Regions from separate parts of the Homo sapiens genome. Here all the other regions are linked to region 2. Evidence: fine-mapped expression QTL. Tissue or cell type: whole blood. Region 2 holds a variant in brackets; each other region holds the start of a gene. Each region is shown on its reference strand, or each on the opposite one. Region 1 holds the start of MRC1 (mannose receptor C-type 1). Region 2 overlaps LPP (LIM domain containing preferred translocation partner in lipoma). Region 3 holds the start of GFRA2 (GDNF family receptor alpha 2).

What was found. PIP is the estimated chance that this variant, and not a neighbour inherited with it, causes the effect. A credible set is the group of variants that fine-mapping cannot tell apart.
Region 1: MRC1 starts here. The variant in region 2 is the best candidate, but not a certain one, in a credible set for the expression of MRC1 in whole blood (TOPMed, PIP 0.66).
Region 3: it holds the start of GFRA2, and the variant in region 2 is fine-mapped to the expression of GFRA2 in whole blood (TOPMed, PIP above 0.99).

The regions. Positions count from the first base shown.
Region 1 is chr10:17,806,856-17,812,080 of GRCh38, reverse strand. MRC1 (mannose receptor C-type 1) reads right to left here and starts at 2,733. Exons shown (of 30, transcript NM_002438.4): 1 at 2,555-2,733. The coding sequence starts at 2,615.
Region 2 is chr3:188,415,111-188,420,335 of GRCh38, reverse strand. All of the region lies in intron 4 of LPP (LIM domain containing preferred translocation partner in lipoma), which reads right to left. Among named protein-coding and RNA genes, the nearest start is that of LPP-AS1, 150 kb to the left of the region's middle. The variant A/T (reference allele first, on the strand shown) is at 2,341.
Region 3 is chr8:21,786,503-21,791,686 of GRCh38, reverse strand. GFRA2 (GDNF family receptor alpha 2) reads left to right here and starts at 2,812. Exons shown (of 9, transcript NM_001495.5): 1 at 2,812-3,567. The coding sequence starts at 3,528.

The DNA of each region.
Region 1 (5,225 bases), not on the chromosome of region 2:
GGATTGAAAAGAAATAAACTGATGGCAAGTAGGGAGACCTTCCCATGGGTTTTCCTAGTGGGCAGGAAGCCAGGGGAGAGGTGTTGGGGCTTCGCATAGTTTAACCTGCTGCTAACTAAGCAGGTGCCCTGCCTTTACACAAATTCCTCCAATCACATGCTTCTCGGGCCAAGAAAAGATAAAATAAAAGTTACAGGCTGGGTGCAGTGGCTCACATCTATCATCCTGCACTATGGGAGGCCAAAGTGGGAGGATCACCAGAGCCCAGAAGTTTGAGATCGGCCTGAGCAAGATAGTGAGACCCCATCTCTACAAAAATAAAAAAAAATAAAAAAAATTAAAAATTAGCCTGGCATAGTGGCTCAAGCCCAAAGTCCCAGCTACTGGGGAGTTGGGAGTGGGCCAAGGTGGGAGGATTGCATGAGCCCAGATGTCAAGGCTGCAGTGAGCCATGATCACACCACTGCACTCCAGCCTGGGTGACAGAGTGAAACCAGTCTCAAAAAACAAAACAACACAAATTACAGGCTTTCACGTAGGAAAAAAAAATCTGGAAGGGGGGTCCCTTGAATTTTTTGTTTGTTTATTCTCCAAGTAAACAGATCTTCAGCATCCCCCTTCTCTCCCCAATATTTGTGCCTATGAAGAGGAAGACATTAGTCAGAGGAGGGCATCCTGCTGTCAGGAAGAGGGAAACACTCCTGAGCAAACCGAGAAACACTATTGCTCAAAGCATTATTGAGTCAGTTTAAAGAAAATTAGGCACTGTGTCTGTGCTGCCCAGTATGATAGCCAGTCACCTCATGTAACCATTGTACACTTAAAATGACACTACTGTGAATTGAGACATGCTATAAGTATGCAATACTCACCAGATTTTGAAGAGTTAGTTTTAAGAAATGAATGGGAAAATATTCCAAATCGATTAAATGTTGAGGGATAATATTTCCGAGTTACTGGGTGAAATAAAATACATTAATAATATCAGGGCTGGGCGCTGTGGCTCATGCCTATAATCCCAGCACTTTGGGAGGCTGAGGAGGGCAGATCACTTGAGGTCAGGAGTTCGAGGCCAGCCTGGCCAACATGGTGAAACGTTGTCTCTACTAAAACTACAAAAATCAGCTGGGCATGGTGGTGCATGCCTGTAATCCCAGCTACTTGGGAGGCCGAGGCAGGAGAATCACTCGAACCCAGGAAGTAGAGGTTGCAGTGAGCCAAGATCATGCCACTGCACTGCAGCCTGGGCAACAAAATGAGAATCTGTCTCAAAAATAAAAATAAAATTAATTTCATCTATCCTTTTTATTTGGCCTTTTATGTACTTCTTTTCTGCCACTGATTTTAATAGCTAACACTTATAAGGCACTTACTATGGGTCATACTCTGTTCTAAACATTTCACATATTGTTACTCATTGAATCATCACAAGAACTGATGGGGGCAGGTAATATTATTCTTTCCATTTTATAGACATGGAAACTAAAGCACAAAGAAATAAAGTAGCCTGCCCAAGGTCGCAAAGCTAGTGAGTGAGAGAGACAGGATGTAAACCATACCGCCTTCACTTGTGTTTTTGTAATCACTACCACTCAATACTTATGATTTAACATTTGCGGTACTAAAACACTCTCTTCCTAGGAAACTTCCCACCCGCCTTCACATCAGTGCATAGAGTAGATCGTAGGCACAAACCATTCTCTGCAAGTGTTTGTTGATTTCATAGAATTAAAGGGGGATCAGAAATCAAAAAATCAAATTTGAAATCTCTTCTAAATCATCTCCAAATAGAACCAGGAATGAAAATCCCCCGAGGCACTCCCATCCTGAAGTTTAAGCAACTGAGTATAGAGAAATAGAAAAGACAGACTGGAAAAGGTATTTGAGAATTTGAACAACTCTGGAGCTGTTCCTAATGAGTAATCTCTAATCTCCAGAAAAAGAAGAAAAACAGGAATCGATCTGCTTATGCGGCAGTTTGAATAGTCTAGAATACAGATAAGGATGAACTTTCTAACAATCAAGTGTCTGAATGATTCTGGCAGAAAAAAAAATGAGTATGGAAATTGCTTAGAATCTCTTTTGGGGGGATGATCTGCGATGATACCCTCGGACCTAAGACGCGGGGAGACATCAGGGCTGCCCTCCTTCCAGCCAGAGACACTCAGAAGGTGTTTGTTGGCGGTGAGACAGAAATAGTGTGAATTGAAAACCAGAAAGAGTAAACCACAGAGCAGGAAATTTCTGCACGAAGAAAACAGGGAAGGAACAACGAGCGATGAGAGAAGTCAGGAGGACACTGAAGGTCTGTAGGGTTCCCGGCAGGGCAGCAACCGAGACCTGAGACGCATCCTCCTCCCTCCTCCAACTCCAGGCCTCCCATGCCTGGCCGCCAGGTGAAGGCAGCAGGCTTAGCCGTGGACTGCGTGGTGCAGGGGAACCCCGTTTCCTCCTCACAAAGATGTTGAAAGGAACCCATTCACAGTAACCCAGAAGAGGAAGGTGTGGTTCCGGCCCCCCAGGTCAGAGATCCCCTGCCTCAGAGCAGACTTACCCAGTAGGAGAACAGCACCCGGAATGACAGAGGCAAAAACCAGGAGCAGGGGTAGCCTCATGGCCCAGGGTTTATCCTTTCCTTCTCCTGATGGACAGGAGGGCGGAACTAAGACGCAAAACAACGAGGCCCCCCAACTGCCTCTCCACCTAATCCAAGTTCCCAGAGCTGCCCAGCTGAAAAGAACTACAGAGGAAGCCCTCCCTTTTAAAGGGCTCCTGAATTTAGGGAAAGCCTCTACTGAGGAGACATCCTGTCACATGAGGGTGGCTGGAAAAACAGGAATTCAAAGTAACAACTTTGCTTCGTAAGCTAACTTCTGAGAAGAGCAGACGCAGAGGAAGGGGAGAAAGGGACACGTGTGGGAGAGGAGTGGCGGGGTGGGGAGGAGAGAGGGCGATGGTGATGGTGAGGAGTCAGGAAGGAGAGAAGTGAAACAGCCTGGGAGCTCCCGGCCTGCTCAGATGGGGCTGGGTGGAGATCAAGCTGCAGGCCATTACCTGTGCCGGAAGACGGAGCTTCCCCTGGGAAGCAGCTGAGTCAGGGGTCCCTCAGCAGACAACCTCCACTCTGAAGTGACAGCCACACGGGCCCTGGAAAGGACAGTTTTACGCTGGAAACACTTCAGAGTTGAAGCTCATCCCCTTCAGTTTCCACATTCAGTGCTTAGAGCCTTTCTTTTTTTTCTTGGAAAGTTTCAACAGAAAGTTCCGTGGAGCTTCATTTCCTCCAGGCAGAAGAAAAGTGAAAAGGAGGCTACACCTAAGAGGGAATGTCAGTCAGGCCAGGAAGGAGAAAGTTCTAGAAACCTTTTGCTAGAACGTTCTCTAGAAAGCCAGAAAAAACAGTGGTAAAGGATTTGCAGTAAAGCCTTGCTGCCCAGCCTCAACCATCCCGGTCCTCTTCAAGTTTAAGTGGGTCCCCTTGCTAGAAAAAGAAAATCTGGCCAGGCACAATGGCTCACGCCTGCAATCCCAGCAGTTTGGGAGGCCGAGGCAGTCAGATCACCCGAGGTCAGGAGTTTGAAACCAGCCTGGTCAACATGGCAAAAACCCGTCTCTACTAAAAATACAAAAGTTAGCCGGGTGTGATCATGCACACCTGTAAGCCCAGCTACTCAGGAGGCTGAGGCAACAGAATCGTTTGAACCTGGGAAGTGGAAGTTACAGTGAGTCAGGATCGCACCACTACACTCCAGCCTGGGCGACAGACGCGAAACTCCATCTCAAAAAAAAAAAAGAAAAGAAAAAAAAGAAAAAGAAAATCTGATTGTTTGGTCAAAAGGTATATCTTTATTTAAAGGCAAGTGGAATTCTTTCTTAGAATAAAATATGTTTCTAGATCTTTCATTAAGCAGAAAATAACCCTCCAAACATTTATGTTGTCATTTTTCAAAAGTAGAACAGGAATTTAGAACATTTTAAAGCAGAAACTAACGATTAGCTGGCCAAACCGTTACTAGAGTGTGGAATATGTTAGTAATTCAAAAAGAAGCTACTGGAAACATTGTAATTTTTAAAATTTTTTAAATGAATAGTTTTATCTTCAAACGGAAAGCCTCCACATTCGTTGTCTTTGTGATAAAGTTGAAAAGTTTCCATCCTATTAGAAATGTGATGTAGTTCTCTTACTGATTGTTTTTAACATGTAAATTTGAGATTATCCTGACCGGAGGGAAAAAGATAGTGAAAATGTAGGACAGAGGACCAAAGTTTCTTTGTCACTAAGGCTGTACATGACTGAAAAAAAAAATGATGGTTATAGAACAGAACAGACAAAACAAAAATGTTTCTCAGACATTGTTTCACTGGCTTATGAAAATAATAGTTTAAATGGGTCATTTGTGGCTTTCAAATATAAATAAATCATATACAAAAGTGACTGCCTAATTTACATTTATATATATTTCAGAAGCAAATACATTTAATTGAATTATGTATATAATCACATTCAGGGTTGGTTTGTTTCTTTGAGACAGAGTCTTGCTCTGTCGCCCAGGCTGGAGTGCAGTGGTGCAATCTGGGCTCACTGCAACCTCCACCTCCCGGGTTCAAGCGATTCTCCTACCTCAGCCTCCCAAGTGGCTGGGATTACAGGCGCGTGCCATGATGCCCAGCTATTTTTTGCATTTTTAGTATAGACGGGGTTTCACCATGTTGGCCAGGCTGGTCTCAAACCCCTGACCTCAAGTGATCCGCCCGCCTTGGCCTCTGAAAGTGCTGGGATTACAGACGTGTGCCACCATACCTGGCCCAGGGTTTGTTTTTTAATTACATAAGTGTGTATATCACATTAGTAAAATTAAAAATTAGGATCAGTACTAAAATCTGTGAAGTTTAAACAAAATGCAGCCAACCACCCCACAAAGAATTTACCCCATGACCTTGACCTCGTTGAAACAAAGATTTATCAGGCTACAAGAGGCCACTGGGGCAAAAAATAAATCCAAATCTTGGGGAAGGGATGTCACAGAAGATGGTGGTGTGGGAAACTCCAGGAATTCATCCCTCCATCTAAGCAGCCATCAAATGGACAGGAACTGACTGAAGTAACTGCAGGTGCTCCTCTACTCATGATCAAATTAGGCCCTGTTAAACCCAATGTGAGTTGAAATATGCTAAGTCAAAAATGCACTTAATACACCTGACCTACCAAACATCACGGCTCAGCG
Region 2 (5,225 bases):
ATATAAACATGAATCATTTTTTGCCACATTGACAAAGTTCAAGTAAAGTAATTCTACTTCTAACAAAGGTGTAATGCAAATTCAAAAAAGGAATCATAATTCTAGCAAGGACAAACATACACCAAGCCAATTCTAAAATCTCTATTAGCAAATACAAAAAGAAACAAGGATACAACTAAGATTATTTTTTAAATGGTCAGCATGAGCTATATGGGATTTTATAATTAAAATTTTATAATCAGAATTTTTTAAAAAAAACTATGGATAGAACCCTCAGAGCTAATGTTCATATTTTCATTTCAATAATAATAGCAAGAACAATGATTGCAGCTTCCACTGATTTTGTCATTATTTTGTCATGACTTAACTTTGAAAACAACTCTTTAAGATACAAATATCTCTATTTCATTTATTCATATATTTATTTATTATTTTTATTTATTCATTTATTTGAGATGGAGTCTTACTCTGACGCCTAGGCTGGAATGGAATGCAGTGGCTTACAGCAACCTCCACCTTCTGTGTTCAAGTGATTCGCCTGCCTCAGTCTCCCAAGTAGCTGGGATTACAGGTGTGTGCCACCACGCCCGGCTAATTTTTGTATTTTTAGTAAAGTCGGGGTTTTGCCATGTTGGCCAGACTGGTCTTGAACTCCTGATCTCAGGTGATCCACCCTTGGCCTCCCAAAGTGCTGGGATTACAGGCGTGAGCCACCACGCCTAGTGCATAACTATCTCTATTTTAAAACTGAAAGAACTTAGGTTGCCACTTATCCTGGTGAGTCCAAGTTTCCAGAGAATTAAGAGGTAAAATCAAAACTCGAAACCCAGATCTATCTGATGCCAGAGTCTACAAGCTTAACCACTGCCTCCCTGAGTCTTTCTTCTCTGTAACCTTCCAATACTACCTTGGCTCCAAGCAAACTCTTTCTTCTGATAGAGTTAGCCATGGAGTCACTTCACAAATAGAAGCTGTACAGTAAAGCTTTATATTGTTAGTTAACTGGGCATTTTCATATGTTGAATTTCTAATGAAAATATAAACTGTTTAAGGGCTAAGACGTGTTTTTACTTTTTCCTGTCCACTACAGAGCCTGGTTAAGTAACAATGGCACAAGATGGAAGTGAATAGGACCCAGTAAAAGAACGGAATTTAATGCAGATGTCAAGATATAAAACAGTGAAATCTTATCTACCAGGAATCACATTGGGTGGCATTCATGACACTTTACTCTCACCTCAAGTGGTGATATTTCTGGGAGACCTCATAGAACTTGGAGATTTCTTTCCCAGGAGGTAATTTTTACAGAGGATGCCCTTACTAAAACCCAAGTCATTACAACATTAACAGATCAATAATAAAAATAATGACGAATTAAAATGCCATTTCTATAGAACGGTAAAAAATAAAATAAAATGTCATTTTAATTCCATTGTAATGTCAATAAAACTACCCCTGATATCTGAAAAGTTTAAGCAAGATGACACAATTCAACTGAACTAAGGAAAATTCCAAATGGTTATTCCAAAGGTCTTGTCAAATAATGTCGCCTTGAGACACTATTTGAGAAACTTGGTAATAACTTCTTGAGACTACTTTGGCTGTTTTATATTTGTATACATCATAGACATCCATGCACAGGAGATTGATTTTAAGCAATTTTCACACATTATTTGGATGACCTTAACCTTCAAATCGCTCTGGATAGTAATAATTCGGGAAAATAATGATGGAAAAATTATTTCATTTAATACAAGTAATAATGGCATTAACATGAGATACAGTGTACTGCTGAGGAACAGCTACAGACTTGGATTTAGGAGACAAGGGTTCAATTCCCAGCTTTGCAATATGCTAGTTATTTCACTTTACATACATTATACTTGGCAGATTGAGGGTGATAATAACTTTTTTACAGAGTAGCTAGAAAGATAAAGTAAGCAGTAAAGCAAAGTGGACTTCAGATGAAATGGAAGCTAATAAATCCACTACAATATTTTTCAAATAGTTAAGATACTGTTCTGCCAGATAAGTTGTTTTAGTAATTGTAATAATTCATTATTACCAAATAGTGTTTATCGTACATTACCAATACTTAAGGGAAGATACTAAAATTTGGTCAAATGTGACTTCTACATTTATTAGCCTAACCTTGGGTCTCTGAATCACAGATTTTTCATTTGTCTTTAGGAACCATAATAATGTAGGAACTATAATAACGTTGCAGGATATTCTGGTGATTAAACTAGATATTATGTGAGAAAGTGCTCTAAAATTTATTCACATTTGTGCACACTCATACAAACACATTTTAAAATTACAAGTTGTAATGAACATTTC[A/T]CAATAAAATCCTTCTTTCATTGCTTCCTGTTTTCTCAGGATTACCCCAACGTGTGAACAAGTAAGAGAGCAAAACAAAACAAAAAATGATTAAGTTAGCTTACAACTCCATTCTTAAGCGTGTGTGTTTGACTAGGTAAAAAAAGCTGCCTGAAATTATTTCAGGAGATTTAAAGAGAATTGCCTTTTGCTTTTTCTTTCTTGCCTTAGCATTTGTATGCACAGGCACATTTCATTCTAAAATATAACAGACAAGTGCAGAGAGATAGCAATAGTACTTCTGGCCAGTACCTCCAGGAAAGTACTTCTTGCCTGTGGTATAAGATCATATTTCTTGGTCCTTCCTCTCTGAAGCTACCTAACTTCCTGGAGCTATTTCTAGAGGTAAGTTTCAGAGCACGCTAGAACATTTAGGTCTACCCATAGTGAAGTCACTCTGTTCACATTGCAAAGCTATTCCCAGGAGCCCAGATGCATTGCCTGAGGACATCAGCAAAGAGCTGCCAAAATTACAAGGGTCAGGATGGGGGCCATTCTCTGCTTTTGCACATGCTGTTCCCTTTACTTGGCATGCCATGCTGTCCACCACCCTTTTCTGCTTGGTAAACAACTAACTCATTCTCCAACACTCAGATCAGATGTGTCCTCGTCTGTGATGCTTTCCCCAGTTCCTCCTAGAGGACATCCTTCATATTATATTACGGCACTAAATTTACATAATGCAATTTTTATGCACATGTGGTGCCTGTTATATGTCTATCTTGACTAGTAGACTTATCTATTCTGTTTGAAGACAGCGACATACAGAACAATGTAAAGAACATATAATAAGGGAGAGTGCTGGAAGAGCAAACTGCTAGAAGACTCAGGATGCCACATCCCAATGACCTATACTCCTCTGCCCCAGGTGCTGTCCTCAGCCATCAGGTCTCTCTGAATGCAGTAATTTTAAGAAAGGATGATAAAAATATCATACTGATTTTTTTTAAGTTCTTTAGGTTAATCGTTATTCTAGGGTATGATTTCTTTATATGGTATATTTGCCCAAAGGCTCAGGTGTCAGATTTATTTTTATAATGTCCATAATGAATCCATTTTTAGATAATTTACATAGGCCTACTGTGACCCAAAATTGGCTGAGATTTCAGGCATTGCTACCCAAAGCAACACAATAGCAAGAGCTCTGTAATGCAGAAGCTTGTCCATGGCTAGGGCATTCTCGAAGAATCCATTTTTTTGTTGTTGTTTGAAATTTTCTGGTTTTGGATCCCAAATAAAATGACCCAGGACAACATATGCAAACGATTGGTGTCTATAATGAAAGCACTGAGGGAAAAGAATAGCAACATGAAAGATGCTCTAGGTCTCTGAATCTGTACAATGTTCACAAGATAAAGACTCTCAAGACTTCAAAAGCTACCATCATTAACTACGGGAGGAAGAGTACACTCTCAGGACTTGGAGAAGGTTCAAAGGAGATTAAGGCACTGGTCCCTGAAGTTAATGAAATAAATGAGTGGTTCCCAAACGTTGGTTGAGCATCAATCACAATTCCCGGGAAGTTCTGTTTTATTTTTTATTTTGCTTTGTTTTAATGCAGATTCCTGGGCCCCATGGCCAGATATTTTGATTCTGTAAAATTGTGATGGGACCTAGGACTTGCTTTAATTTTTTTCTTTTGAAAAATGTTCTCCAAGTCTTTCTGATGACTGGCCAGCTTTGAAAACCACAGGTTTAAGCCATACATTTTGGCAGGGATACATATAGCAGTGATCTTTCAAAGTATCATGCAAGCAATTCAGATGGCATGTAAGATAGCACTTTGAGTAAGAGAAGAATACATTAAGATATCTATATGCATTCCTTTATTTTACTATTATTAATTTTTTTTTAAATATGGACTCATAGAAAGTTGCAAAAATAGTACAGAGTTTCCATGTACATTTTACCCAGGTTCCCTAAATGGTAATGCTCATAAAGCTGTAATACATTCGAAAACCCAGCAAACTGACATTGTTACCTTATTGTTAACTAGGAGTTACTCAGTTTTTACCATTTTATAACCTGCATTGATTTGTGTGTGCATACAGTTCTATGTAACTTTATCCCATGTATAGATTCATGTAATCATCACTCCAATTGAGGTACAGATCTGTTCCACCCATACAAAGACTCTTGCTGCGTCCTCTTTGTAGGAATGACCAGTACTTGCCCCCCCCCGACCCACCCATTTCTGTCCCCTAGCAATCATGAATATGTCCTTTATCTCTAGAGCTTTGTCTTAAAATGAAATCATATAATACATGTAACCTTTCGAGACAGTTTTTTCATTAAGCATGTCCAGGTTATTGCATATACCAACAATACTTCATTCTTTTTTACTGCTGAATGGTATTATTCCATTGTATGGCTGTACCAGACTTCACTGAAACATCTGCCCATCAAAGGATATTTGGGTTGTTTCCAGTGTTTTGTCATTATGATAAAAAAAAAAAAGTTGCTATGAACATCCATGTACAGGTTTTTTCGTGAACATAACATTTTGATTCTCTGGATTAAATGCCAAAGGGTATATTTGCTGAGTCATATGGTTAGTACATGTTTACTTTTGTAAAATACCGCCAAAGAGTTTTCCATCGTGGCTACAAAATTTTGCACATGCCTACCAGCATTGTGAGAGATCATTTCTCCACATCCTTAGCAGCATCTGGTACAAATTTTTATTTTAGCTTTTCTAATACATGTGTGGTGATATCTCTTTGTGGCTCTCTGTTTATTTTTATTATCAAAAAAGCAATTAAATTCTCTTCAGATGTAAAATACGGAGGGACAATAGTATTGTATATTTGTATAATTCAAAAATAAAGATGATTAATATGTATCTC
Region 3 (5,184 bases), not on the chromosome of region 2:
AATTTCTACAACGTTGGTTTATCTTTTTTAATCCCCATTTTATAGATGAGATGACTGAGGTTCAGAAGTCCTCTTATCTATAAGGTGTTATAGTACATGTTCAACTGTGTTTCCTCTGTAGATCCCGGCACAAGGCAGGGGGTCTTCCTCATGGCAGATGCTCAGGAAATAAGGGATGATGCCATTTTTAAGAGCAGTTTGGGTTGAGTGTTGGGGTGGGCAGAGGGTGGGGTGTCATGGGATACGTCTGTATAGGCAGTAGGTAAGAGAGGGTCCAAGGTCAGAGTGCCCTGCAGTCACACAAGCTGAATGCTGGTGGTGACTGATTGGTGTTCTCTACTGTTCTTGGGATGGCTGGGTGGTCTTGGGTCGCAGAAGGGCCACTTACCTCCTGCTACCGGAATCCTCTTTCCTACTCCCGTGGGAGCTCAGTGAGAACCATCCCCAGGGCTTCATTGCTGCTTTCTCAGCCCCATTTTCTGGATAGGTGGGAGGGGAGAACTACATATATGATTCAGAGAATTTCTCTCATTATGCTCAAATGAAGTTAAAAGAAAGTGAAATTCTTTTTTGTGGGGAAGGGGAGAGGGATATGCTGAGCAGAAATTCTGGAGTTTGGAGCAGGGTCCTTGGAAGGGGGAAGGCCTGCGTGAGATTCCGAAATGGGTGGTGGTGGGGAGTATTTGGACAACCAGAAGACCCTGGAAGTCGAGGAGATGAGAGGGGGGACATTCATTTAGGCCAGGCTCCCAGCCTCGGGCCTCCAGGCCAAGCCTGCCTGGCAGTGTAATTCCTGTCAAGTTTTATCTTTTAACCTACACTTATCCAAAGCCGGTTCCTTATGCTCCCCAATTTTTGGAAAAAAAGCCAAGAGACCTTGTCAGATGCGAAGTCACTTCCTAGAACATGAGAGGCTTGGAGGAATGACAGGGAGGGCAGGCCTGAAGGGGGCTTTCCCCAACTCCAATCCCTAAGCCCTCTGTCCCAGACTCGTCACTACCCAGCTAGGGCCTAGGCTCGAAGCAGGCACAACTGGATGGCTGGGGGAGAAGATGGAGGGAGGAAGGTCGATGCCCCAGGACGGACCACAGGAAAGAGGCGTTCACAGGAGACTCGCTCTCTGTGCTTCCAAGGCCGGGAGCAGCCGCCTTCCCGCCTAAATCCTCAAGATGGAAGTTGCTCCCTCTAGCTTTCCCAATAGCTAAGGCTGCTGGTTTTGTTAGTGACCCCTCCCTTCTCGTCCAAGTCGATTTCTAGCATTTACTGGATTCCAGAGTCTTGTTATTTAAGAATGCATCTTAAACGGTACTATCAAATTCATGTTACGTGCAGCCCAGATTGTTTTGGGCAGCACGAAAAGTTTCTGAGGCGCTGCGTGTACCCCACCCCAGGACACCGTGTGTGCGCGCCGAGCTGAGTGCGAGGAACGTGGCGCGAGGGCCGGGGGATGCCGGGCTGCGTGGGTGTGAGCCCTCGCGCGACCGCGACCCCGCGCCTCTCCCGCTCTCGCCGGAACGTGACCGCAGCCGCACCTCTCCTCCAGCCCTTTCCCAGCCAGACGCTTCCTTTTAGGTCCTTCTGGGCGTTTATTGTAAATTCTGCGACTAAAACACGCCGGTGAGCCCGGCCCACCGACAGATGGATCAATCGCCCCCTTCCCGGCTAGGGGAGGAGGAACCCCCCAACCCCGGAGCCTAGGGAGCCGGGAGCTGCCTCGGGACGAGCTCCTCGGAGCCCAGCCGGCTGCGGAGCCCCGGCCCGGGTCGGTCTCGGGGCCCTCCTGCCGGGGTGGGGTGCGAGCCCCTGCCCGATTCCTCTGGGGCGGTTCAGGCAGGTTTGCCGGCCTCCGAGGAGGTGGTCAGGGCGCCCTGGCCCAGCAGGCTTCTTCCCGAGCCGGGGGGAGGGGAGACCGGCTGGGGAAGGGGCATCTCGAAGGGGTGGAGGCCGGGGCGGGCGGGAGGCAAGCGCGCCGCGGGCGTGAGGGCAAAGTTCCCGAGGTCCGCGCGGAGAGCACACGTGTATGTGCGCGCGGGGCTAGGCCGGGGCCGGCAGGATGCGTTGGGTTCGGGGGCGCGCGGGGCCGGCGCCGAAGGGGATAATTCCTTTCCCTGGCACCATCGGGGAGACGCTTTGTCGGCCTCGGCTCCTGGGCGCAGGGACGCCTTAGCCCACGGAGGGTGGAGCCCCCCTCAGACCCGGGCCACCGGCTGGGGTTTTTCTAACGCCCTGCCCCCCGAGCCCCCGGATGGCTCGGGCCCCACGGACTCCGCGCCCTCCAGCCTCAGCTCAGCTCCCCAGGCTTCCCAGACCCAGCGGCGCAGGGGGCGGGGGCAGGGGCAGTGGGGGTTGGAGGGCGCAGCCGGTCCCCAGGGTGGGGAGAGCTGCGGGGGGAGGAGGAGGAGGGTGCCGACGCTTGAGTGGGTTCGAGCCCGAGCCGTAGCCGGGGGAGCCAGTCAGTTTCCGGCCAAGGCAGCAGGTCAGTCCCAGGAAGGGCGGGCGATTGAGCCGAGGGAGCCGGCGGCTGGGCTCTCCTCTCGGCCCGCGATCCCCGGCGCCGCCGCCGCCGCCACCGCCACCGCCACCGCCTTCGCCTTGTCGCCGCCGCCGCTGCAGAGCATCGTAGCTCCGCCGCGCTCCCGCGCCCCGCGCCCCGCGCCGCCAGCCGCCTGGGAGCCCGAGCGCCGAGCCCGGGGCGGAGGAGAGGGGCGCTGGCGCGAGAGCCCGGGCGAGGGAGCCGCGAAGGGAGAAGGGGGCGGGCGGAGGGAGGAGCAGGGAGAGTGGGAGAAGGGGGAGGGAGAGAGGAGAGCGAGGGAGAGCTGGAGAGAGCGAGAGCAAAGAGCGAGCGAGGGAGAGGAGAGAGAGAGAGAGGAGAGAGAAAGACACACGCACGCAGAGACACACGGTCACTGGAATTCCATTAGAAAAAAGTGAGCCGAGCAAGGGTTAGCGGGAGAAGATTTTTTTGAATCTTGTCTTCGTCTTGGTGCGAAAGAAGCGACTCCAGTCTCTCGTCCTCGAAGCTCCGACTGGATTGTTCTTGGGCGCTGACACCCGTCTGTGGATTTCTTTTCTATTTGCATTTTATTCCGACCCCCTCCCTCGCCGCTTCCTTCCAGCCCTTCACTCGCAAATCGCCTCTCTCCCCACCTCCCCAGGCCCCTCCTGGGAAGCGCAGGGGAATTGGACCCGCGGGGACTCACGCCTTCCCGGACGATTGGAGGGGAGGGCTGACCCCAGGACTGGGCTGTTGGCTTAGAAAGCCGATACACAGATACGCGTATATTTGATTGTAGCGGGCAAGGGGGGCGTCGAGAGGCAGCAGCCCATCGCCCGCCTCTCACCCCACCCCCTCCAGCCAGAGGCGAGAATCGCAGGACTCGGGATCTTCATCGGGTGGACTAGCTGGGATCTCCGCATTGGATTTGGGGCTGATTACCACTGCTTGCCTATTATTATTGTTGTTGTTACTACTATTATTTTTTTTTACCCAAGGGAGAAAGACAAAAAAACGGTGGGATTTATTTAACATGATCTTGGCAAACGTCTTCTGCCTCTTCTTCTTTCTAGGTGAGTACCTGCGGGCGGCGAGCTCGAGGGGGAGGCGAGAAGCCGGGGAGGCGGGGGGCGAGCGGAGCGCCGGTGGGGGGCTGGCGGGAGGTCGGCGGGGAGAGCGCGCCGCGGAGCTAGCCGGGCCCGGTGCTGGCGAACCGAGCGGGGCCGGGCGGCAGGGACGCGGACGAGGGACCGGAGCCGCGGCTGGCTGGCGACGCAGGGGGATCGGGAGGGAGACTCAACATCCGAACCAGCCCCGCAGACACTGTGCACGCACACACACACCCGCGCTCGCTCACACGCCAGTATAGCGCGCATCTCCCCCGAAATAATGGGTTCGAATTGCGGCAACTTAAGAAAAAAAAATATCCAACTCTTGATCTGCAAGAAGGGAGGGAGAGAGAGGCTCCTAGGCGGGGAGAGAACAGTCCTGCGGGGTCCGCCTTTCCTGGTCTGCTCCCCGAGTCGGTCGTGGTGGAGGGCGCGGGTTTCTCCGGCGGCTCCCGCTTGGACATCGCGCGGGGAGCGCTGGCAGTCACTCCCCACCTGCCAGCCGCGCCTGGCAAACGGAGCCCGCGTCCCCACGCCCTGAGCCCCTAACCGGCGGCTCCACTCCCCGGAACACTTTTCAAGTTTCTCCCCACCGAGCCCCGAGCCAGATGGGTGGGCGGGAGCGGAGGGTTGTGAGCAGCCGTTCCCGGCCTTCCCTCCTCCACCTCTGGGGGCCGCGGACCCCCGTGGCTGGTGGGAAGAGGCGGGAGGGAGGCCAAAGTTTGCTTTCTCCGTTGAAGAGGGTGGGAGGCGAGGGAGGAAAAACGGGTCTGAACAAAGACCACTGCTCCTTCTGCAAACCCCCCCCACTGCCCCCCCCGCCGCCTCCAAGACAGGGAGGAGAGGCTGCCTGGCGCCACTGAGCCCCACGCAGTTTCTTTTCCACACAGAATTCCCAGCTCCTCTCTCCCTTTAAAGCTAGGTGAAATCGCAGCTGCTTGGGAAATGGCAATCTCCGGAGGGAGGTGAGGAAAGGCGGTTGTTTGCAAGGCTGTGCACCACCGGGAGTCCCAGGCAGGGCTGCTGCCAGGGAGTAGACGCTCCCATAGAGGGAGCCGGGTAACTACTGTGTATGTGTGTGTGTGTGTGAGTGTGTTTGTAAGGAGCACACGTCTGCTTCAGTGAGGGTGTAGTTCTACCACCTTGGCTTGCTGTGTAGCCAGTGTTGAGCCAGGCTGCCCAGCGGGGTCATGATCTCACCCTCTCCCTCCTGCAGTAGGGGATCTGGGAAGGCCACGAGTGGGGAGGTAGGAGCTGGTTACAGGAGGATGTGCGTGGTCTAAGAAGTGCTCGCCAGACTAGGATAGGGGACCGGAGTCATTGGGTGTCCACACAGGCTCTGGACTCTCTGCCTGTCCCCTCTGCTTCCCGCCAGGTGCGAGTCCCCAAGGGGGCAAGTCCCTGCTCTAGGGTGTGGCCTCAGAGGTCCTACCTCCCTCAGCCAGAGGCAGCTTCTCTCTGGGGTGGGAGGGGCTCCTCTAGGAAGCTGGAAGTTGCTCTGGGCCCGCTGTGATCCCGAAGCCCTTCCTGTCAACCCTGGCAAGTGGACTCTCATTCTGAAGGGGCTACTATAAAATCTGA